2 separate regions of the Homo sapiens genome follow, and region 2 is linked to region 1. The links come from fine-mapping of genetic effects on gene expression. A gene starts in region 1. The other region holds a variant in brackets. All regions are shown on one strand. Distances are between the middles of the regions.

The links. PIP is the estimated chance that this variant, and not a neighbour inherited with it, causes the effect. A credible set is the group of variants that fine-mapping cannot tell apart.
Region 2: its variant is the best candidate, but not a certain one, in a credible set for the expression of CDHR2 in prefrontal cortex (GTEx, PIP 0.68).

Annotation. Positions count from the first base shown.
Region 1 is chr5:176,544,635-176,555,801 of GRCh38, forward strand. CDHR2 (cadherin related family member 2) reads left to right here and starts at 4,708. Exons shown (of 32, transcript NM_017675.6): 1 at 4,708-4,780. It also overlaps the pseudogene RN7SL684P. RefSeq lists enhancers at 4,980-5,913, 7,562-8,195.
Region 2 is chr5:176,579,813-176,592,252 of GRCh38, forward strand. CDHR2 (cadherin related family member 2) reads left to right here. Exons shown (of 32, transcript NM_017675.6): 17 at 1,531-1,770; 18 at 4,378-4,447; 19 at 4,598-5,203; 20 at 6,142-6,213; 21 at 6,981-7,030; 22 at 9,219-9,370; 23 at 9,518-9,626; 24 at 9,716-9,804; 25 at 10,266-10,334; 26 at 10,441-10,518; 27 at 10,613-10,673; 28 at 10,751-10,875; 29 at 11,398-11,511; 30 at 11,592-11,672. Among named protein-coding and RNA genes, the nearest start is that of GPRIN1, 24 kb to the right of the region's middle. The variant G/A (reference allele first, on the strand shown) is at 9,002.

The sequences.
Region 1 (11,167 bases):
TCACCATGTTGGCCAGGCTAGTCTTGAACTCCTGACATGGTGATCCGCCCGCCTCGGCCTCCCAAAGTGCTGGGATTACAGGCGTGAGCTACCGCGCCCAGCCCCGAGTTCTTTCTAGGGTGGGAGGCTGTGAGTCTGTGACATCACGGGGATATTCTTGGGCTGGTTCCTTGTCTGTAAGAGCAACGAAGGGACTTTGTACCCTGCAAAGTGCAACTTCCGGGGATGATTGGGAAGTTGAGGGGTTGAATGCATTCACACCAGAGTCACTCTCAGCCCAGACTCTCCGGGTCACCTCTAAGGCTGTGCACTAGGTGGGCGTCAGAGGTATTACAGGTAAAGAAATGGCGGCTCAGAGGGAAGGAGAGACTTGCCTAACTTCAGGGCAAGCTAACGCTTGATTTCAACTTGATAAATTTCTGAGTATGCAGTGGGTGCACATAGCAGAGACAGGTAATGAGAAGTTTTCTTTTTTCCTTTTCTTTTTTTGTGGGGGGTGGGGACAGAGTCTCACTCTGTCACCCAGGCAGGAGTGTAGTGGTGCAATCTCGGCTCACTGCAATCTCCCCCCACCCCACCTCCAGGTTCAAGCGATTCTTGTGCCTCAGCCTCCTGAGCAGCTGGCACTACAGGTGCACGCCACCACGCTGGGCTAAGTTTTGTATTTTTAGTAGAGATGGGGTTTCACCATGTTCTACGTTTCACCATGTTGGCCAGGCTGGTCTTGGACTCCTGGCCTGAAGTGATCTGCCTGCCTCAGTGTCCCAAAAGTGTTGGGATTACAGGCGTGAGCCACCGCACTCGGCCGAGAAGTTTTTCTGATTAAAAAAAATTTTAAGGCACACACTTCAGACAGTGGCTGTGAAGGAACCCTGATGTGTATCTAAACTGTCGCCTCGTGCACATCACCCCATTACTTACTCTGTGCTAAGTGCTGTCATGCATTACATCATTACTCCTTAGAACAGGCCTATGAGGTGGAGTCTGCATTAGGCCCATTTTGGACAAGGACACCAATAGTGTGGGAGGTGGTGTACCTTGCCCAAGCCCCCAGCAGGTAAGTGGTGGTGGGGATTAGGACCCAGGTCACTTGAGTCCATATCCTGGGCTCTTAGTCCCACTCTGCCTGGCTGCCTGCTGCTCCGTGAAGCCAACCCTGGACCTAGACCTGGACCTGGATCGTCATAGCCCAGATCCCTGTGTGCTTCCCAGGCTGCCTTGTGGCAGGTGGATGGTGCCCCTCGAGATGGGCAGGGCACCATCTGGCCACACGTGCCTCATCGTGATGGGTCCAAAGGTCTGGGCAGGCCAGGACACACCTCTGTCAACCAGAGCAGTGACTCAGAGCTGTCGGCCTCAGCCGTAAGGGCAGGGAGAGGGGGCAGGGGCTTGGGTTGGGGTCTGCCCTATTTGGGGCACAGCAGAGCGACCAGGCTGACTCCCATGGTCTGAGGCAGAGCGGGGAGCCTGGAGCCTTGGGTGGGGTCACCTGCCTCTCTTCTTACTGGTTAAGCCACCAGCGATGACTAGTGCCTACTTCCTTCAGAGAGGAATCTGACGGCTGTGGCAGGAAAGTCAGGGGCAAGAATTGTTGCACAGATATGCTAATATCTCAGTTCTGCCACTTTCTGTAATCTCGGGTGGTGATCTAATCTGTCTAAGGTCTATTTTCCCATCTGTAATGGGGAAAAAAATCATCCCTGGAGTTATTGGCAGGATTAAATGAGGTGATATTAGTAATGCAATAGTCACCACCATGCCCCCACGAAAACTAACATTCATTGAGACCTTATTGTGTTGGGCATTGTGCTCAGGACTTCAAATGGGTGACTTCATTACATCCTCACCATCACCTGCCCAGGTAGGCATCATGTATTACCTGCAACTTACAGATAAGGAAACCGTCTTAGAGAGGTTATGCAACTTGCCCTGCCAAAATTGAACCCATTGTGAATATACAGTAGATAAAAAAAATAATAAAAATAAAATGAAATTAAAAATTGTGGCTGGGCAGGGCGGCTCACACCTGTAATCCTAGTACTTTGGGAGGCCGACACGGGTGGGTCACCTGAGGTCAGGAGTTTGAAACCAGCCTGGCCAACATGGTGCTCAAAAAAAAAAAAAAAAAAAAAAAAAAATTGAACCCAGCAGTCTGACCCCAGAGGAGCCTGGTCTCTGGTCTCTTAACCCCTGCATTGTAATAGTCGCATCGAGCGCTACCCAGTGTCTGCAGCATCCTTTCCTCAGAAACACTTCTCAAAAAGAGGAAAAGCCTCTTGGGTATCAAAACTCAGAACTGCATCATAGCTCCCAGAGCCTGGCTATACGCAAAGTGGTCTTTTTGGTCTTTTTTTTTTTTTTTGAGATGGAGTCTTGCTCTGTCACCCAGGCTAGAGTGCAGTGGGACAATCTTGGCTCACTGCAACCTCTGCCTCCCGGGTTCAAGTGAATCTCCTGCCTCAGCCTCCTGAGTAGCTGAGATTACAGGCACCTGCCACCGTGCACAGCTATTTTTTGTATTTTTAGCAGAGACAGGGTTTTACCATTTTGGCCAGGCTGGTCTCGAATTCTTGACCTGGTGATCCACCCGCCTCAGCCTCCCAAAGTGCTGGGATTACAGGCGCGAGCCACCAGCCTATGCAAATGTTTTAAAATGGATGGATGCTGGACTCAATGGATCTCAATTCCCTTTTTTCTTTGCCTGGGGGGAAGCTCAGAACCTGATTCATGACCCATCTCTACAATTACCCAGAACTTGAAGGCAAATATATATATATATATAATTTGTTTATTTTTTGAGAGAGAAGCTCTTGTTGTCTAGGCTGGAGTGCAGTAGCTATTCATAGGCACAGTCTCACTACTGATCAGCACCTGAAGTTTGACCTGCTCTGTTTCTGACCTGGGCTGGTTCAGCCTTTCTGAGGCAACCTAGTGGTCCTCTGCTCCTTGGGGTTCACCATATTAGTGCTGAATTTAGTGTGGACACCCCATCAGCATAGTGCCCTACAGCACAGAAATCCTGGCCTCAAGCCATCCTACTGCTGCAGCCTCCCAAGTAGCTGGGACTACAGGTGCACAGCAGTGCCCCCAGCTCAAGACAAGTATTTTATGGCCTCAATTCAGGCGTAGATTACCCTTATTTTTCTCACTTGACTTCCCTTCATCTGGGTTTCTTCTTTTTATGCTGGTGGCGTATAAATTTTGTTACTATGTTTTACATTTGGAGAGTTGGGAAGCAAACTATTAAAATGCCTGACTATAGCAACTGCCTGATATACAGTCAACACAACCCTTAACAACGGGGACACCTTCTGGGAAATGTGTCATCAGGCAATTTCGTCATTGTGTGAACATCACACAGTGACTTACACAAACCTAGGCGGTACCACCTACTACACACCCAGTCTCTATACCACCGCCTGTGCTCCTGGGCTGCTAACCTATGCAGCCTGGGACTGTACCGCACGCTGCAGGCAACTGTAACACAGGGGTAAGTATTTGTGCATGTAAACACAGAAAGGGTGCCATGAAAGATGATATTATACTCTTATGGGACCGCTATTATATGTGTGGTTCGTTGTTGACCAAAACACAGATATATGGTGCATGACTATATATCTATTGTGAATTAGACATGTCCTCTGCCCACAAGAAGAGGGCCACCCAATGGTGACGACTCAGTGGTGTGCCTTAAGAAAGTTGTGCCCAGGGTCCCCTTTCTGTGTCAACTGTGATGGCTGGGCCAAAGTGAGGATAAGAAGGACTTGTGGCTGAGCCCCTTCGGGAGGCCACCACATCGGGCAGCGCTTAAAGCCAGCCTGGGGGCCGAGCTCCGTGGCTCATCCCTGTAATCCCAGCATTTTGGAAGGCCGAGGCAGGCGGATCGCCTGAGGTTAGGAGTTCGAGACCAGCCTGGCCAACATGGTGAAACCCTGTTTCTACTAAAAATACAAAAAAAATTAGCCGGGTGTGGAGGCCCACGCCTGTAATCCCAGTTACTCGAGAGGCTGAGGTAGGAGAATTGCTTGAACCCAGGAAGCAGAGATTGCAGTGAGCCAAGATTGTGCCACTTCACTCCAGCCTGGGTGACAGAGCAAGACTCTGACTCAAAAATAAATAAATAATTAAAAAAAAAAGGCAACTTGGGAGTGGATGAAGCCCCTGGGGACGGGCAGATGCCTTTTGAGGGTCTCAATGCGGGGTGAGATCAGTGTCAACAGGCTCGAAAGTGGGTTGTCCAGGCTCAGCTAGCCCCCAGTCCTCCACGAGAACCTCACAGGGGCTGGTCTGGCCACACAGTGTTTGATTGTTACACTGTTTTACCACTTCCCTCTCCTGACTCAATCCCCCACTTGTCCACAGATCCCCTGTCACTGAAGACTCGTAGCAGGGAGGGGACGGGGGCTCTGGCATCACCTTCTGACTGTCACCGTCCCCGCCTCCAGCCTGCCCCAGTGTTGGGCCTTGTTCCCAGGTCCTCTGGGCTCAGGGTCGGCCAGGCCCCTTCTCCTGTGGTGTGGGCCTCCAGCCCCAGGAGCGCCAGGAGCTCTGGCGCCTTGGTCCCTTCCTCCTGTCCGGCGCCCCCAGCTGTACTCTGCCTCATTAGGAGTCGACCCCTCCTGGGAGGTGTGGTCTCTGGCAGGGTTAATGATTGCTCAGTGGAGGTGGAGATGGTGCCAAAGTCTGCTGGCCACATAGCTGCAGGCCGCAGAGGGTGCCCACCTGTGTGCCAGCGCCTGTCCGGCGCCTGCCTGCCGCCTCCGTGGCGAAGGGGACACAGGTAGGGACTATCCAGCTCATCGGGGGTCTCTGGGCCAGAGAAATGTGGGGGTTGGGGGGATCCCTAGAGCCAAGGCAAGCTTGGGGGTCTTTAAAAGTCTCCCCTGAAGCTGGGCAGGGGAAGTCACACGCTAGATGGGGCAGAGCCGGGTCAGGTCCCAGCCTGCTGTGAGGCCTGTTTCTTTGGTAAACATGGGATAATAATACCTCCTTCCCTGGGGGCTGATGGCCCCCTTCCCATCCAAGTCCTCAAGGGATGATTCTTCAGAGGATGGAAGGGAGGCAGGCACCCCAGGGAAACGAGGTAACTGGCCTGACCCCTTCATAGGATGCTCAGGGGTTGAGGACGGGGAAGCTGACCTGGGCTCTTACCCCAGCTGCTCGGTTCACATCCCAGCTCCACCCTGACCTTGGTGGGCTACTTAACTCTTCTGGGCCTCCGTTTCCTCATTTATCAAATGGGGATGAGAAGAGTTCCAGAAAGGGCCTGAAAAGCCCTGAGGCAAAGGTGAGCATGTGGCCTATGACCGAGCCCAGTGCCACCTCAGCCAGTGCTAGGAAGTGTCAGGCAGGGACTGACCCAGGCTGGCCCCAGCTCTGCCCAGTCCGGGCCTTGCACATCTCTCTGCCCTGGTAGAGGAGGTGGTGACCCAGCTGAGAGTCGGGGCCATGCTGCGTCACTCAGGCAGGCCTGTGCTGGGTTGGGCACCAGGCACAAGGCAGGGTCCCAGTGAGCACCGAGGTCCGGCAGATGGAAACAAGTCATGGCCCGTGTGTAGACCCCTTGATTTTTATCCTCACTCTGCTTCTCAGCAGGGGAAACTGAGGCCTGGAGAGGGGAGAGGGCTTGCCTGGGGTTGCACAACAAATATGTGAAATGCTGCCATCTGAACCCAGGGCTGTTTGAGTCTGTATGTGTCTGCTGGGCCAGGTGGCCTGGGCCATAGGCACTGGGAGGGCCCGTGGCGGGGAGCTGCGTGCTCAGGTCCCACATCCTTGCTCCGGGCACCCAGGCTCGGCTGGAGTCCGCTCTGTGGGTGCAGGCACGGCCTCCTGGATCAACGGAGCCCAGACCAAGGCTTGCCCAGGGACCCCTGGATTTGGAGGCAGCCTGGGTCTAACCTGCTGCCCCTGGCTCACCCATCTCTGGGCATCTATGAGCCTCGGTTTCCTTGGAATAATAGGATAGGATAATTCCTGCTTGGGAACAGCTGTGAGAAGTAAATGAAAAAGCAGAAGTGAAAGTGCATGGCGAGCTGGCCGTGTAGCGGTGGCGGTGCTGGGGGAGCTCTGTAGCATCGTGGCTGAGTGCACCCCGGGGGCTCCCCACACTGAAGGAGGACCCACCTCCCCACCCTGACCCTCCTGGAGGTCCTGGGCAGTCCGGGTATCCTCACTCCCAGTGGTTCCAAATTCTAGAAAATCTTGGCACCGTGGACTGCTCTGAGATGCGGCTGAAGCCTCCTCTCAGCCAAGGCTGAAGAGCTGGCACCTCCTGGGCCAGGTGGGACCAGTGAGGATTCCTGGAGACTACACATCTCATGGCGTGGGGGCCAGAGTCTCCCTGATTCTTCTCTGTGTCCTTTTTGGTCCTTCCCTAAGCACTTTCTTTTTGAGACGGATTCTCACTCTGTTGCCCAGGCTGGAGTGCAAGGCGCTATCTCGGCTCACTGCAACCTGTGCCTCCCTGGTTCAAACGATTCTCCTGCCTCAGCCTCCTGACTAGCTAGGATTACAGGTGCACGCCACCACGTCTGGCTAATTTTTTTTTGTGAGATGGAGTCTTGCTTGTCGCCCAGGCTCCAGTGCAGTGGTGCGATCTCAGTTCACCACAACCTCTGCCTCCTTGGTTCAAGTGATTCTCCTGCCTCAGCCTCCCGAATAGCTGGGATTACAGGTGTGCGCCACCATGCCTGGCTAATTTTTGTATTTTTAGTAGAGACAGGGTTTCACCATGTTGGTCAGGCTGGTCCAGGCATTTTTTGAGAGCAGGGAAACAACAGTAGTGGCCGGAGGGCTTGAGAACAAGGAAGCAGTAATTTCTGGAATATAGATAGTCCCCATTTTAAATTACTTTATTTTATTTTTATTTTTTGAGACAAGGTCTTGCTCTGTCGCCCAGGCTGGCGTGCAGTGGCGCGATCTCGGCTCACTGCAGCCTCAACCTTCTGGGCTCAAGTGATCCTCCCACTCTAGCCTCCCAAAGTGCTGGACTGTGTTTGCTCCTTTAAAAAATGAGAACTATTGGTATTGGCCTGGACTGCCACCACACCTAGCCAAGAGTTCTCTTTTTTTTTTTTTTTTTTGAGACAGAGTCTCGCTCTGTCACCCAAGCTGGAGTGCAGTAGCGGCATCTCGGCTCACTGCAAGCTCCGCTTCCCGGGTTCACGCCATTCTCCTGCCTCAGCCTTCCAAGTAGCTGGGACTACAGGCGCCCGCCACCACGCCTGGCTAATATTTTTTTTTTTTTTGGGGAACTTTTAGTAGAGACGGCGTTTCACCATGTTAGCCAGGATGGTCTCGATCTCCTGACCCCGACCCCGTAATCGGCCCGCCAAAGTGCTGGGATTACAGGCGTGAGTCACCGCGCCCGGTTAATAGTTCCCATTTTTAAAAGGAGCAAACAGAGAAAAGAGCCCAGGGGTACGGTTGTGCAGTGACTGGGACCTTGTTTCACACCCATGCGTTGGCCTGAGGCTGCCCCAGCAGGGAAAAGCGGGTGCCTGTCCGCAAGTCCCAGCCCAGGGGCAACTCCATTCACTCGGTTTCCATTTGTGCCTTGCTCCTGCCCCTTGCTGGGGTACCAGGAAATGAGGAGCCCAGAGTGGGGGCCACCAACTGCCTGAACACAGCTCCACAGCTGATCTGGGCCTTACAGAATGGAGAGGATTTGCATGTAGGCAGAAGGCAAAGAAAGACATTCTGGGCAGAGGGAATGGTTTAGGCAAATGGAGGAAGGACAATGCAGGGTGTGGACCGAGAACAGGAGCATTCAACACCACTGGACCTCAGGAGTGGGAGAGAGCAGCTCGTGTGGAAAAAGCAAGACCCAGGACCTCCAAGGACCTCGCCTGTCAGGCTGAGGGGCAGGCAGTGTGTCCTGCAGCCAGTGGGAGCCATGGAGGAGATTTGAGCTTGGGAGTGACCTATCATGGGGAAGGCTTAGCATTGGGGCAGGCCGTTATTGCGCCTTCGCCAGCCCACACAGACACTGTGCTTTTTCCCCAAGTGACTGAATCCAGAGGCAGATGCTCTGGACTGTAGAACGCCAGCCTCATCATGATCATGAGGAGGCAGGACTGCGAGAAACCCGGGGCCAACCCCAGCAGAGCAGGAGGCAGGCGAGGCAGGGATGAGGCAAGAAAGAGCACTGGCCTGGGAGGCAGACAGGGTGGCACCCCCACTCTGCCGCTGACAGCCTTGGAGCTGCTGGGCAGGAACCCTGGCCTCCTGCACTCATGTCTGTGTGCATAAAGGGGATTGATGAATCCAGCTCTTCCTTCCAGGGGGATGGCTGGGCCCACATGCAGGGGAGAGACTGTGCGTGCATCACACAAATGCAAAGGGGCATCGCTGTTGCTCTGAGTGAGGGTCCCCAGGCTTCTTGAGGCCCTCCATCCTGCCCTGTGAGATGGGGAGGGGGGAGTTGGGAGACACTTCCATGAGGGAGAAGCGTGGCGTGTATGGGGAAGGGGCTGTAGGGGGAGGCGCCTCGGGGACTGGGTGAAGGTCCTGGTTCGGGCTGTTCTCTCTCAACATCACATGTTTGTGGGCTCAGCATGACCTGTGGGAAAATCGGGCAGCTCAAGAAGGAAAACCCAGGAGCCTAGAAAAGAGAGAAGGCACAGGCCTGGCTTGGGTTCTGCCCATTACTGGCTGGGCCGCGCCCTTTCCCCTCTTGGACGTCAGTTTGCTGAGGACTAAATGGTAATGGGGGCAAAGTGCTAGCCTCGGTACACGGCCCTTCCTTGCCAGTTCCCATTTTCCTCTGGGACTGGGAGGAGGGACCCTGAGGGCAGGAATCTCCTGTCCTGCAGGCTGGACCCAGGGGAACTTTGTAATGATGATGAATCCATCTTGATACCTGCTGGCTGCACACCTAGTGACTAATTGTCCCGTGGCAGTTGACTCATTTCTGAAGGACAGAACATGAGAGAAAAAAGTGAGGAGGGAGGTAGGTTCCAGGTTACAGCCTCAGAGGGATGCCTGGGCTGGACGCATCCAGCCCCTGGCTGTTCCTTACACAATGGACACCTGCAGTCTAGCAGTACCGCTAATGCCCAGCTCACCTGCGTCTCCACCGCCAGCCCCGCCACCACCACCATCTCCCTCCCCCAACTGTCACCTCCACCAGCGCCACCTGCGTCTCCACCTTCATCAGCACACACATCATCAGCATGTCCGTCCCTACTTACCACCACCAGTGCCACCCCTACCCCCGAGGGATCCCTATCCTGATATTGGACCCTGCCTCCATGACCACCTCACTCACTGCCCTTGACTCCAGCGCTATGATGTCACTCTCCAGGGTGTAGCTGTACCCACATCGCTGTCCCTGTCTCACTGAGGACTGTGGCTCAGCACTGCTGGGGGTTCTGAGGACTGAGAACTTACTAATTCCCCTGAGCGGTGGGGCACATCTGTATTTATCAGTCTGGCTGAGTGCAGCCCTGCCGTTCAGCATGTGGGCTGTCCCCAGCTGTCATCTCCGGGGTTCTTGGCAAGCCAGCATTTTCCACAGCAACTTCCCAAGGTTCCCCTGGCTAGAGTCACATGGAAGGTAGCATGAGAAACAGCCCCAGGGCTCCTCCACACACAGCCCTGGCCCTGCCCATTTAGCTCTGACCTCTGCAAGCAGTCTCAGACCCTGGGGAGCGTGGATGGTCACCAGGGAGGGAGGAAGCTGTTTCCATGGTGATTGCAGTGGGAGGAGCAGCCATAAGGTGAGGACAACCCCACGGAAGGAAGAAGGTTTGCACTTGCTGAGCGCCTATTGTGTGCCAGGCGCTGAGGTGGCACATTCTTATTCCCACTCATCCCCCGCTGCCTACCCTCATCACTTAGTGGGGTTATTATTCTCACAGGGGAGGGAACGCTTAGAGAAGGGCAGTGAACTGCCCAGCGAAGCTCTGCTGCTCCTTGACTCTGTAAACTCAAGCCAGGCTCTTCACCTCTCTGAGCTTTGTTTTCCCCATCTGTAAAGTGGGTAGAATGGTACCAATCTAGAAGGGTTTTTTGTTTTTGTTTTTGTTTTGTTTTGTTTTGGAGACAGTGTCTCGCTCTGTCTCCCAGGCTGGAGTGCAGTGGCACGATCTCGGCTCACTGCAACCTCCACCTCCCGGGTTCACACCATTCTCTGGCCTCAGCCTCCTGAGGATTACAGGCACGTGCCACCACACCCAGCTAATTATTGTATTTTTAGTAGAGACGGGGTTTCACCATGTTGGCCAAGCTGGTCTTGAACTCCTGACCTCAAGTGATCTGCCCGCCTTGGCCTCCCAAAGTGCTGGGATTACAGGTGTGAGCCACCACACCCAGCCTCGAAGGGATTTTGTGAGCATTACGTAGTGCCCGGCTCAAGTTCTGAGAGGCAGGAGGTGCTTCCTCCACGAGTCTCTTGCTATTCATTGCTGTAATGTTTAACGGTTGCCAAACATCCCACCCAGGGCTTGTCCACATCTTTCTACATCATTGCCTGTGTTTCATGTTACGGTCACTTCCAGCTTCCCATGATTATAAATAATCACTCACGGTCAACAACTTTCTGCAAAAAGAGCTTCTTATTCTATGTTAGTTGGATGAGTAGGTCAACAGGGCAAACATTTTGAAGCTTTGGGGTCCACATCTGAACTGGGGTTTTCTCCTCTTGCTAGGGCCCTGGGGCCACGGGAGGCCTGCCTCCTTCTCCCTGCCTCAGGGAGAGGCGAGGGCCTTGGGATCGGAGAGTGGCTGTGAATCCCACTCACTTTCAGCTGTGAGGGCCTCAGCGGAACACTCCCAGCAAGAGCCTGTTTGCTCATCTGCAAAATGAGTTGCTGTGAAGATGAAATTCTATGAATCCCAAATATTCTGCCTCCAAACTATAGCCCTGCTCTTGCCTCCCCTCCAGCCCTGCTGCCCCCAGTTCAGCCCGGCGACACACAGCAGCCAGAAAGGTCTTAAGAGGAAATTACTGCCTGCCACTCCCCTGCTTAAAACTCTGAAATGGGCCAAGTGCAGTGGATGGCTCACGCCTGTAATCCCAGCACTTTGGGAGGCCGAGGTGGGTGGATCACCTGAGGTCAGGAGTTCGAGACCAGCCTGGCCAACATGGCAAAACCCCATCTCTACTAAAAATAAAAAAATTAGCTAGGTGTGGTGGCTCACGCCTGTAATCCTTCGGGAGGCT
Region 2 (12,440 bases), 36 kb after region 1:
TTTGGCTGGGCCCTGAGTCCTCAGAGATGAGTCCACCACCATTCCTGCCCCCCAGGCGGCTCCCAGTTAGGAAGAGGGCGTCAGACAGTCACCCAGCGGTGTCACCTGTGCTATGTTGAGGCCCAGAGGAAGCGCCAACCTGGCCTGGAGTCAGGCAGGGAAGGTGTGGGAGGCATCGGGGTGAGGGAACGGAACCTGCAAAGGCCTGGCGGCACAGAGGAACCCGCTGTGTTATCCACACTGGTTCACCCCAAAGACAAACCAAGCATGCCTTCAGGGCCCTGGCAGGACAGGAACACACACACACACTCACGCACGCACTCACACACGCACTCACACACACACTCACACACGCACTCACACACACTCACACACGCACTCACAGACATACAAAGTGAGTGAAGAATCAGCTATTTAAAACATATAGCGCTGACGGCCGGGCATGGTGGCTCCTGCCTGTAATCTCAGCACTTTGGGAGGCCGAGGTGGGTGGATCACTTGAGATCAGGAGTTCGAAACCAGCCTGGCCAACATAGTGAAACCCCATCTCTACTAAAATTACAAAAATTAGCTGGGTGTGGTGGTGCATGCCTGTAATCCCAGCTACTTGGGAGGCTGAGGCAGGAGAATCACTTGAATCCAGGAATTGGAAGCTGCAGTGAGCTGAGATCATGGCACTGCACTCCACTCTGGGCAACAGAGTGAGACTCCACCTCAAAAAAAAAAAAAAAGAAAGAAAGAAAGAAAAAAAAGAAAACAAAACAAAACAAAAGAAGGGCCAGACGTGGTGGCTCACGCCTGTATGTAATCCCAGCACTTTGGGAAGCTGAGGCAGGTGGATCACCTGAGGTTAGGAGTTCAAGACCAGCCTGGCCAACATGGTGAAACCCCATCTCTACTAAAAAATACAAAAAATTAGCCTGGTGTGGTGGTGGGTGCCTGTAATCCCAGCTACTTAGGAGGCTGAGGCAGGAGAATCACTTGAACCCAGGAGAAGGAGTTTGCAGTGAGCAAGAGAGATCGCACCATTGCACTCCAGCCTGGGCAACAAGAGCGAAACTGTATGAAAGAAAAAAGAAAAAAGAAAAAATATGTATATAGCACTGAAGTAGTCATTATGGGAAAATGAGAATCTTGCTGGACTTCACACTTATGAGTTTAAAACTTTCTTTGTCTACAATTTCCTGCCCCCATATCCCCCTTCCTGCTAGAATATCAGTAGCAAAAGGGCCTGTCTTGATGATGGCTCTATTCTTTCTTTGCACCTGGAACGGGGCTGGGCACGTAGGTCCACAGTGGCCGTTTGTGAGATGAAAGAATGGCCTCAGTGCTGAAGATCTCAGAAGCTCTTGCAAACTGCTGACCTGAGCCTCTTAGATGGGAAACTGGGGCTGGGAGATGGGCCCAGGGGCTCCAGGCCTGATGACTGCCTGCGTGGGCCAGCGCTGGAGAGGAGGGTCCGGCTGCATCGGAGGGGCTGGGGGCTGGGAATGCCGATGGCCGATGACCAACCCCTGCTTACGTGCACAGGCCCACGACAATGATGAGCCGGGCACCAACAACAGCCGTCTGCTCTTCAACCTGCTGCCTGGCCCCTACAGCCACAACTTCTCCTTGGACCCTGACACAGGGCTCCTCAGAAACCTGGGGCCCCTGGACAGAGAGGCCATCGACCCCGCCCTGGAGGGCCGCATTGTGCTGACAGTGCTTGTGTCTGACTGCGGCGAGCCTGTCCTCGGCACCAAAGTCAATGTCACCATCACTGTGGAGGTAAGGCCTCGCTTAGCCAGGATGGGCCTGGGGGCCTCCCAAGCCGATAGCCAGCCCCTCCAGCTTGAGTCACACTTCTGCCCTCTGCAGCCAGCCTGCCTGGGTTACAATCCCGCTCACTCGTATGGCCCCAGGCAATTACTCAACCTCCCTAGGCACTCAGGCTCCTCATCTATAAAACGGGGGTGAAAAAGGTTAAAGATTAAGTGAGTTAATGAATGGAAAGTGCTTGGTAGAGTGCCTGACCTATAGACAGTATCAGTGAATATCAGCTCTAATTGTCACTCATAAAGTCCCACCTGAAACCCTCCTGTCTCCCTGCCACCATTGAAAAGCAAAGGGAAGGGGTGAAAATCAGCATTGCTGGTGTCTATTGCACATCAGGGCATCCGCCAAGGTTGGGATGGTTATTACCATTTTGTTTTTATTTATTTATCTATTGATTTATTTATTTTTGAGACAGGGTCTCCCTTTGTCACCCAGGCTGCAGTGCAATAGTGCCATCATGGCTCACTGCAGACTCAACCTCCCAGGCTCAAGCGATCCTCCTGCCTCAGCCTCCTGAGTAGTTGGGACTATAGGCATATGCCACCATGCCTGGTTAATTTTTTTATTTTTGTAGAGATGGGGTTTTTCCATGTTGCCCAGGCTGGTCTTGAACTCCCGAGCTCAAGCGATCCACCCGCCTTGGCCTCCTAAGTAGCTAAGACTAAAGATGCGTGCCACCATGCCTGGCTAATTTGGCTAATTTTTAAAATTTATTTTTCATAGAATCAGAGTCTCACTTATTGTCCAGGCCAATTTTGAACTGTTGGCCTCAAGCGACCCTCTCAACTCAGCCTCACAAAATGCTGGGATTACAGGCATAAGTCACTGAGCCCGGTTTATTACCGTTTTATTGATTGAGCAACTGAGGCGGGCCTAGTTGCTGTGGCTCATGCCAAAAACCTCAGTACTTTGGGAGGCCAAGGTGAGAGGATTGCTTGAGCCCAGGAGTTTGAGACTGGGCTGGGCAACATAGCGAGACCCCATCTCTACTAAAATAAAAAATTAGCCAGGCATGGTGGCATGTACCTGAAGTCCCAGCTACTTGGAAGGCTGAGGCAGGTGGATCATTTCAGCCCAGGAGGTTGAGGCTGCGGTGAGCTATGATCATGCCACTGCAATCCAGCCTGTGAGACAGAGCAAGACCCTGTCTCAAAAAAAGAAACTGAGGCACAGAGAGGTTCAGTACCTTGCCTGGGGGTCACAAAATTGGGTTTTGACTTCAATCAGTCTGGTTCTAAGGCTGCCACCAGCCCACAAGGCACCTTCCTCTGGAACAGTATTGTGACAAATGTGCACCTCTGCCGTGTCTGTGATGTGGATGGCACCCCATAGGGTTGTGCAGTGCACAGCCTGCACCACTGCACATAGCAGCCCTGTGTCCCCTGGACTGGGATGTGCCATTTTCACACAAGGGTCAGAGAGTGAGACCTCAGAAATGAAGAAAACGAAGCAGAATGAGGACTTGCTGGTTGTCCTTAGGGTGGGAGGGCTGCAAAGAGAGAACTTCATTTCCTGAGTGAACAGGTTTCTTCACCCCTGTGAGCCGTCCTCACAATTGCCCTATTAGTGGGGACTACTACCCCATTTTGCAGATGAGGACACTGAGGTCCAGAGAGGTCAAGGTCACACATGAGGCAGAGGTGGAGCAAGATGTGACTCAGTGCTCTTATCCACTCCTGTGAGTTAGGGTGACCTTGAGAATGCAGCTGGTCTTGTGCGTGGAGCCAATGATGTCATCGCTGGGAAATTAGCAGCAGAAAAGACATCTAGCTAAGGTGCAAGAATGTTGTCTTCCAAATGTTCATTCTAGGGTTATTCAGAAAAACAAACACCTGTTATGTGACCCACAAACCTGGGAAGGGCTGGAGTGCTCAGGGCATCCCCCAAGCACATGCCAGTGTTAGGAGACATAGGGGAGGGCAGAGTCACCTCCAGGCTGTGACAATAGTTGCAGGGCTCCAGCTGTGCCCAGTGGGCTAGGGCTGGCCACAGAGGTGAGAGCCAAAAACAGCTGGTGTCTGAGGCAGGAGCAGGTCTAAGCTTCTGCAGGTCCCCGGAGCCCAGCTCTGACTGAGCACAGAGCTGGTGTTGTGGGCTCAGTTGTGTGCAGGAGGGACAGGGGTAGGAGGGGACAAGGGAAAGTGTGGGCCTTGGAGCCTTTGTGGACATATAATGGTATTGGTGCCAACACAATAAATCCGAGAGATGGGAGTCAAGCTGGGCCAGGCAGGGTCGCAGGTGGGGACCCAGAACTGTGCTTCTAGAAAGCAGGGTCTAGAACAAGTCCTGAGCTGTGGTCAGAGAAACAGGAAGCAAGCAGGGCTTCCTGAGGATGGATGTGTAAGGCCAAGGTCCCACTGTAGGTCCCTGAACCCCGGGTGTGTGACCTGGGCAAGTTCCCTCCTCTCAGAGCCTGTCTCCTCATCTGGGAAGTGGGCAGTGAGGTCTGAGGCACTAGTAGAGTCCATGCCTTGGAGCACAGGGATTATTGGTTTCTCGGATTGGCTCTGGGGAGGGTGAGATTGGATCCCGGGGACTCAGACCTGTCTCTGACTGCAGGACATCAATGATAACCTGCCCATCTTCAATCAGTCCAGCTACAACTTTACGGTGAAGGAGGAGGATCCAGGTATGTGCTCCCTGGGCCAGGAGAGACACTGCGGCTGGGACCCAGTGTGGCTTTGTCAGGGTGGACCTCGAGTTCCAAGAGAGGCAAGGGCAGAGGAGGCTTCCGATGGCGGGGTCAGGAGTCCTTCTGAGCTCTGCCCCTTGTCCACAGGAGTGCTAGTGGGCGTGGTGAAGGCCTGGGACGCGGACCAGACGGAAGCCAACAACCGCATCAGCTTCAGCCTGTCGGGGAGTGGTGCCAACTACTTCATGATCCGAGGCTTGGTGCTGGGGGCTGGGTGGGCTGAGGGCTACCTCCGGCTGCCCCCGGACGTGAGCCTGGATTACGAGACACAGCCCGTCTTCAACTTGACAGTGAGTGCTGAGAACCCAGACCCCCAGGGGGGTGAGACCATAGTAGACGTCTGCGTGAATGTGAAAGACGTGAACGACAATCCCCCCACCCTGGATGTAGCCTCACTCCGGGGCATCCGTGTGGCTGAGAATGGCTCACAGCACGGCCAGGTGGCTGTGGTGGTTGCCTCGGATGTGGACACCAGTGCCCAGCTGGAGATACAGCTTGTGAACATTCTCTGCACCAAGGCCGGGGTCGATGTGGGCAGCCTATGCTGGGGCTGGTTCTCAGTGGCGGCCAACGGCTCTGTGTACATCAACCAGAGCAAAGCCATCGACTACGAGGCCTGTGACCTGGTCACGCTGGTTGTGCGGGCCTGTGACCTAGCCACGGACCCCGGCTTCCAGGCCTACAGCAACAATGGTAAGGCAGCCTGTCCTTGCAGGGCTTGGCAGGCCATAGCTTAGGGGCCGCGGGAAGGAGCCCTGGGCTGGAACTCACAAGGTCTGGGCTCAGATCTTGGCTCCAGCCCTTTCCAGCTGCAAATACTGGGAAAGTCCCAAACCCTCTCCAAGCTTCAGTTTCCCCATCTGTCCAGTGGAGTTGGGCAGTGGGGTGGGCTGTGAAGATTCAATGAGAATATGGATGTATGGCATTTATTGCAGTGCCTGGCATGCAGTAGCATCAAATTAATGCCATTATTTTACAAGATGCTGTGAAAGAAAGATAACACTGCAGAGCTAGATGTGTGCTTGTATCCCACTTCTGACACCAAATAGCAATAATAATCACATTAACAACTAGCATATATTGAGTCCTTATGACAGCCAAGAACTACACCAGGCACCTTGTAAGAATTTTTCCACTTCCACACAACCCATGGGGTAGGTGTTCCCTATCCAATTTTATAGATGAGGAAACTGAGGCAGAAAGTGGGTATTTAAACAACCAGCTTATATAGTTAGAATGTGTCAGTATAATGTCATAGGTGAGATCTACCTAGGCTGGGCCCAATCCTGGCCCACCACTATTGCTGTGTGACTTTGACAAGCTGCTTATCTGCTCTGAGGTCTGGGATGATACTCCCACCCACACAGGCCAGAGAAGACCGATCAGGCATTCTGGGTCAGGAGCAGGGAAGGGGACTGAGCATGGGGGAACACATGGGAGAGAAGCTGCGGGGCATGGGGTTGAGGCTGCGGGGCACGGGGTTGAGGCTGCGGGGCACAGGGTTGAGGCTGCGGGGCACGGGGTTGAGGCTGCGGGGCATGGGGTTGAGGCTGTGGGGCACAGGGTTGAGGCCCAGGCTCTTTGGGTCAAGCTTTTGCCCAGAGCCAAAGCCAGCTGACCTTGTCTCCTAGGAAGCCTCCTCATTACCATTGAGGACGTGAATGACAATGCACCCTATTTTCTGCCTGAGAATAAGACTTTTGGTAAGCAGCAACCCCATTCACACACCATACCCCTGCTCCATAAGGCCGCCTTTGAGCAACCCCGACAGACCCTCCTTGGACCCCAGGGGGAGCCTTTAGAAAGGGGGGAAGGCCTCTAATCCTGCATCTTCCTAGGGCTGCAATAGGAGAGGACATTGGAGTTTTCTTTTTTCTTTCCTTTTTTTCTTGAGACGGAGTCTTGCTCTGTCGCCCAGGCTGGAGCGCAATGGTACGATCTCAGCTCACTGCAACCTCCGCCTCCCAGGTTCAAGCAATTCTCATGCCTTAGCCTCCAGAGTAGCTGGGGCTACAGGCATGCGCCACCACACCTGGCTAATTTTTGTATTTTTAGTAGAGACAGGGTTTCATTGTGTTGGCCAGACTGGTCTTGAACTCCTGGCCTCAAGTGATCTGCTCGCCTTGGCCTCCCAAAGTGCTGGGATTATAGGCATGAGCCACCATGCCCAGCCAACACTGGAGTTTTCATTCCAGCTCTGTCCGACCTAATGTCTGGCCCTGGGCCAGGACTTCCCTCTCTGGGCCTCCATTTCCGCATGGTCCTGTGGGCCTGTGACCTCACCTGTGACAATGGGAGGTGGATGACTTGCTAACTACTGGCCCAGTGGTGGCTGTAATAGGGGTCTCTTTTGGTAGAGAGGTTGAGGGCAGGTTTAGGGGGATGAGCCCTGAGCTGGGCTCGTGACCAGCCTTGGTCCAGGTGGGCAGTGTCCCGACCCCGCTGACCCCGTTCCCGTTCACACCTGCAGTGATCATCCCTGAACTCGTGCTGCCCAACCGGGAGGTGGCTTCTGTCCGGGTAAGTTCTTGGCTCCAGCCTTTGTTGGTCATATGAGCCCCAGGGGACACAGGGCTGAGGCCTTCAGGCCTTCCATGGTAGAAAGAAAATATATGGGCTCCAACACATGAAAAAGAAAACCCCAGAAGGGAAACCAACACCTGTCTAATCAATGTAATCAAACTTCACTGTGATAAATGTAGCATTCATAAAAATGTCATGACCGTAAATACCACTTGCAGTCCAGATATTTCTTACTATACCAGAATTCTTGAGTAATACAGAGAACTCATAGCTAATTGTAAATTAAGCCAGTGCCTTGTCATTAAATAATTCTCAGAGCCAGCTGGGCACGGTGGCTCAAGCCTGTAATCCCAGCACTTTGGGAGGCCAAGGCAGGTGGATCACCTGAGGTCGGGAGTCTGCGACCAGCCTGACCAACATGCAGAAACCCCATCTCTACTAAAAAATACAAAATTAGCTGGGTGTGGTGGTGCATGCCTGTAATCCCAGCTACTTGGGAGGCTGAGGCAGGAGAGTCACTTGAACTCGAGAGGCGGAGGTTGCGGTGAGTCGAGATCACGCCATTGCACTCCAGCCTGGGCGACAAGAGTGAAACTCTGCCTCAAAAAAAAATAAATAAATAAATAAATTATTGGAGCCAAGTCATAAAAAGGCTTTCAGCTGTTTATGGTGTTGGATGTGGCAAGTTTATTAGGGGTGGTGGCCATGCCGTGTGGGGATGAGGCTTCCCACACCACCGAGGGCTGGGCCTGGCTGGGCTTCTTACTGACCTGGAGAGCTGCCTACCCTCTCTGGGACTCCGTTTCCCTGTTCAACAAGAAGCTAGCAGTTCCCAGAAGGTGGCATGTGGGTGCCATTCCCTATGCTTTGGAAAGGACATGGGTACAAGAGATGGACAGGGCTGGCCTTCCCCACTTAGAGCCGAGTGTAAGGACAGGGTCTCTCGGAGCCTCAGCTTCCTCTTGTAAAATGGGGATAGTAATTCTCCCTCTCTAGGTTGACGTTCATGCTAGAGACAGTGACTGTGTGACTTTCAAGTCTTAAGACAGCTTCCCAATCTTCTGCCAATTTGGTTCTAATGTCAAGAGTTTAGCCACGGCAATTTTCTTTAAATAGATTCCTTTTTAAGACCTAAGCACTGGTGTTGGCCTATCCTTAACAGTAACGTTGGTGAACTCGAAGCTCTGTGTGCTGGTTAAATTTTTCTCTAAAAGGCACTAGAATGAATAAAAATGCTTGTGTCCCCTCCCCAACCAGCTTCATGGTCTACTAGGGGAATTGGTACTCCCCGCACGGAAATGAGGGATCCCAGGGGAGGTGCTTAGGAAATCTGAGCATCGCTGTGTGTGTGCACGCCAGTGTGTGTGTGTCTAAGTGTGAATGTGTGTGCCTGAGGGTGTGTATAAGGGTGAGTGAGTGTATGTGAATGTGTGTGACAGTGTGTGGGTATGTAGGTGATTGTGGGTGTGTATGTGTGTGACTGTGCAAGTGTGTGAATGTGTGTGAATTGAGTGTATTTGTGTGAGTGTGTGTGAATTGAGTGTGTGGTGAGTGCATGAGAGAGTGAGGGTGTGAGTGTGTGTGTCAGGATAAGTGTGTGAGTGTGAGAGGGTGTGTGAGTGTATGTGAGTGTGAGAGGATAAGTGTGTGAGGGTGTGTATGAGTGTGTGCATGTGTGTGAGTGTGTTAGGGTGAGTGAGTGTATGTGTGAGTGGGACAGTGTGTGAGAGTGTGTGTGAGGGTGTGTATGAGTGTGTGTGCATATGTGTGTAAGTGTGTGTTAGGGTGAGACTGAGTGTGAGTGGGACAGTGTGTGAGAGTGTGTGTGTGTGAGAGGGTGTGTATGTGAGAGAGACTGTGTGTGTGAGTGTGTGTGTGTGAGAGAGAGAGAGAGTATGGCAGTGGAGGGGTGTAGGGGGAGCAGGGCAGGATTTCCACATGTGAGGGACTTAGGGCAGTGATCTGTTT[G/A]GAGTTGGGGAACAGGGGCAGGTTCTTGTCCAAATCTGGATTTGCAGAGCAGACACACTGTTTTTTGAAACCATTTGCTTATTCGGGGCAGCGTGGGGATGGCGGATAGAGACGGTGAGGGCCAGCCTCCCAGGCCACCCTTGCCTCTGATCCCTGCTGGGGTGGAGGGATGCCTGGCCTGGCTGGGCCCCCAGATATTGTCCACTCTTGCTCCCAGGCCAGAGACGATGATTCAGGGAACAATGGCGTCATCCTGTTCTCCATCCTCCGAGTAGACTTCATCTCTAAGGACGGGGCCACCATCCCTTTCCAGGGTGTCTTCTCGATCTTCACCTCCTCCGAGGCCGACGTGTTCGCTGGGAGCATTCAGTAACTGCGGGCGGCCCCGGGAGGGAGGTTGCGGGGAGGGGCCCGATAGGAGCTTTCAGGCAGCAAGTCCCCCATCCTGGAGGTTACAAGGGTCCTGAGGATTCAGCTTGGGTTCCAAGACTGACCTGCGCCTCCCGCCTTCCGCAGGCCGGTGACCAGCCTCGACTCCACTCTCCAAGGCACCTACCAAGTGACAGTCCAGGCCAGGGACAGACCTTCCTTGGGTCCTTTCCTGGAAGCCACCACCACCCTGAATGTGAGTGCTGGTCCCACCTCCAGCCCCCAACGCCCTCTGCCAGCCCCCAGGGTCCCTGGTGCCTCATCTCCTGCACACCCCCTTCCCAGCTCTTCACCGTGGACCAGAGTTACCGCTCGCGGCTGCAGTTCTCCACACCGAAGGAGGAGGTGGGCGCCAACAGACAGGCGATTAATGCGTAGGTCTGGGGAGCCCCGGAGGGAGGGGTAGGAAGAACAGGGTGTAGGAGCCTGGTCCCCGACAAAACCTGGATGGGATGTCTCTCAATCCTGTTCCTGACCCACATTTGACCTTGTCCCTGTCTTCAACCCTGTACTTTCACCTGCACGACGTTCTTGCATGTCCCCAGAAGCCCATACCCAGCCAAGGGCAGAGGGAAGCCTTGGAACAAGGCTGCCGTGTACAGTTGTGAAGGCTGTGTGTTGCACAAGGGCACTCTGCTTGCTAAGCTATTCACCCAGCCCCAGAGGAAGGGATTTCCTTTTGTAATTTTCACAGAGATGCTACCTACTCAGCCAACAGAGCTGTCCAGAGGAGGTGCCCTTTCTCACTCATACAATTCTTAATCCCACTGGCACAGCCCTGGCCACAGGCCCAGGCTAAGACCCCAGGCCTCTGTGACATCTGCCTTCTTTGCAGGGCTCTTACCCAGGCAACCAGGACTACAGTATACATTGTGGACATTCAGGACATAGATTCTGCAGCTCGGTGAGTGCCCAGAGGCCTGGGGGTGGGGTTGAGGGGGAGAAGCGGTAGCAGGAGGGGCCTGCTGGGTGATCCAGGCTCCTGACTCTTCAACTCTGTCCCGCTCCAGGGCCCGACCTCACTCCTACCTCGATGCCTACTTTGTCTTCCCCAATGGGTCAGCCCTGACCCTTGATGAGCTGAGTGTGTGAGTGGGGCTGCCCTTGGGGCAGGTGTGAGGGTGAGCAGGAAGCCTGGGGTGTGCCAAGGTCCCTCGGGCCTAAGTGGAGTTCTGTGGCCAGGATGATCCGGAATGATCAGGACTCGCTGACGCAGCTGCTGCAGCTGGGGCTGGTGGTGCTGGTGAGTGCGGGCAGGGCGGGGCAGCAGGTGGGGCTGCTGAAGACGAGTGTGCTTCCCTCACACTCATCTTTCTCCAGGGCTCCCAGGAGAGCCAGGAGTCAGACCTGTCGAAACAGCTCATCAGTGTCATCATAGGATTGGGAGTGGCTTTGCTGCTGGTCCTTGTGATCATGACCATGGCCTTCGTGTGTGTGCGGAAGAGGTGCGGCTCCCATTGCCCCCGTGTCTCCAACCTTCACCCTCTCCCACCACCCAAGACGTCGGGGGGTAGGGGTAGAAGGAGCTGGGGCTTAGGCACAGGTATACATGCATTCACTCCCCAGTGACCCAGTGCGAGATCTTGGGTGAGTCACCTCCCCTCCACGGGCCTCAGTTTCCTTATCTGTGAAAGGGCATGAGACTTGATTCCTCAGTGCACTCAAGGAAGTAACATGCATCTCACACCCAGCTAGACGTCTGGCACACACTATGCGTTTAATAGATGCTGCTGCTTTTTCCAACATGTATAGAGTCAGCAGCCGTATCTGGGCTTGACTTCAAGCCTTGTCACTGGCTATTTGACCTTTGGCAAATCACTTGCCTTCTCTGGCTCTTACTTCTACCCTCTGTAAAATAGAGCTAACACTCACCTCCCGGGATCTTGTGAAGCCACAGGCTCAGGGCCTCCACTGGGGACACAACAGGTGTGCAGCAACAGTGTGACCCCTCTTCCGGTTCCCCACAGCTACAACCGGAAGCTTCAAGCTATGAAGGCTGCCAAGGAGGCCAGGAAGACAGCAGCAGGGGTGATGCCCTCAGCCCCTGCCATCCCAGGGACTAACATGTACAACACTGAGCGGTGAGCAGGGGTCAAAGGGTAGGTAAGAGGCCTGGTGGGGTGGCTGAGGGCCAGGCAACTTGACCAGGCTTTCTCTCCAGAGCCAACCCCATGCTGAACCTCCCCAACAAAGACCTGGGCTTGGAGTACCTCTCTCCCTCCAATGACCTGGACTCTGTCAGGTGAGCAGTGCCCCTCACAGCCAGGCTAGGTGGTGGTGGTGGTACAGGTAGTGACGGTGGTGGTGGTGATGGTGTTGGTGGTGATGATGGTGATGACAATGGTGATGGTGTGGTCATGGTAGTAGTGGTAGTTATGGTGGTGGTGGTGATGGTAGTGAGGTGATGGTGATGGTAGCAATGGTGACAGTGGTGATGATGACAACAATGATGGTGGTGATGATGGTGTTGGTGTTGAGGTGATGGTGATGGTTGTGATGGTGATGGTGGTGATGATGGTGATGATGACGATGGTGGTGGTGGTGGTGGTGTTGGTGTTGAGGTGATGGTGATGGTTGTGATGGTGATGGTGGTGATGATGGTGTTGGTGTTGAGGTGATGGTGATGGTTGTGATGGTGATGGTGGTGATGATGGTGTTGGTGTTGAGGTGATGGTGATGGTTGTGATGGTGATGGTGGTGATGATGGTGATGATGACGGTGGTGGTGGTGGTGGTGTTGGTGTTGAGGTGATGGTGGTGATGGTAGTGGTGGTGGGTGATGGTGGTGGCAATGGTGATGGTGGTGGTCATGGTGGTCATGGTAGTGGTGGCAGTTATCGTGGTGGTGGTGGTGATGGTGGTGGTGATGGTGATGGTAGTGATGGTGATGGTGGTGATGATGGTGATGATGACAATGATGATGGTGGTGGTGGTGTTGGTGTTGAGGTGATGATGGTGCTGATGGTGATGGTGGTGATGATGGTGATGATGACAATGATGATGGTGGTGGT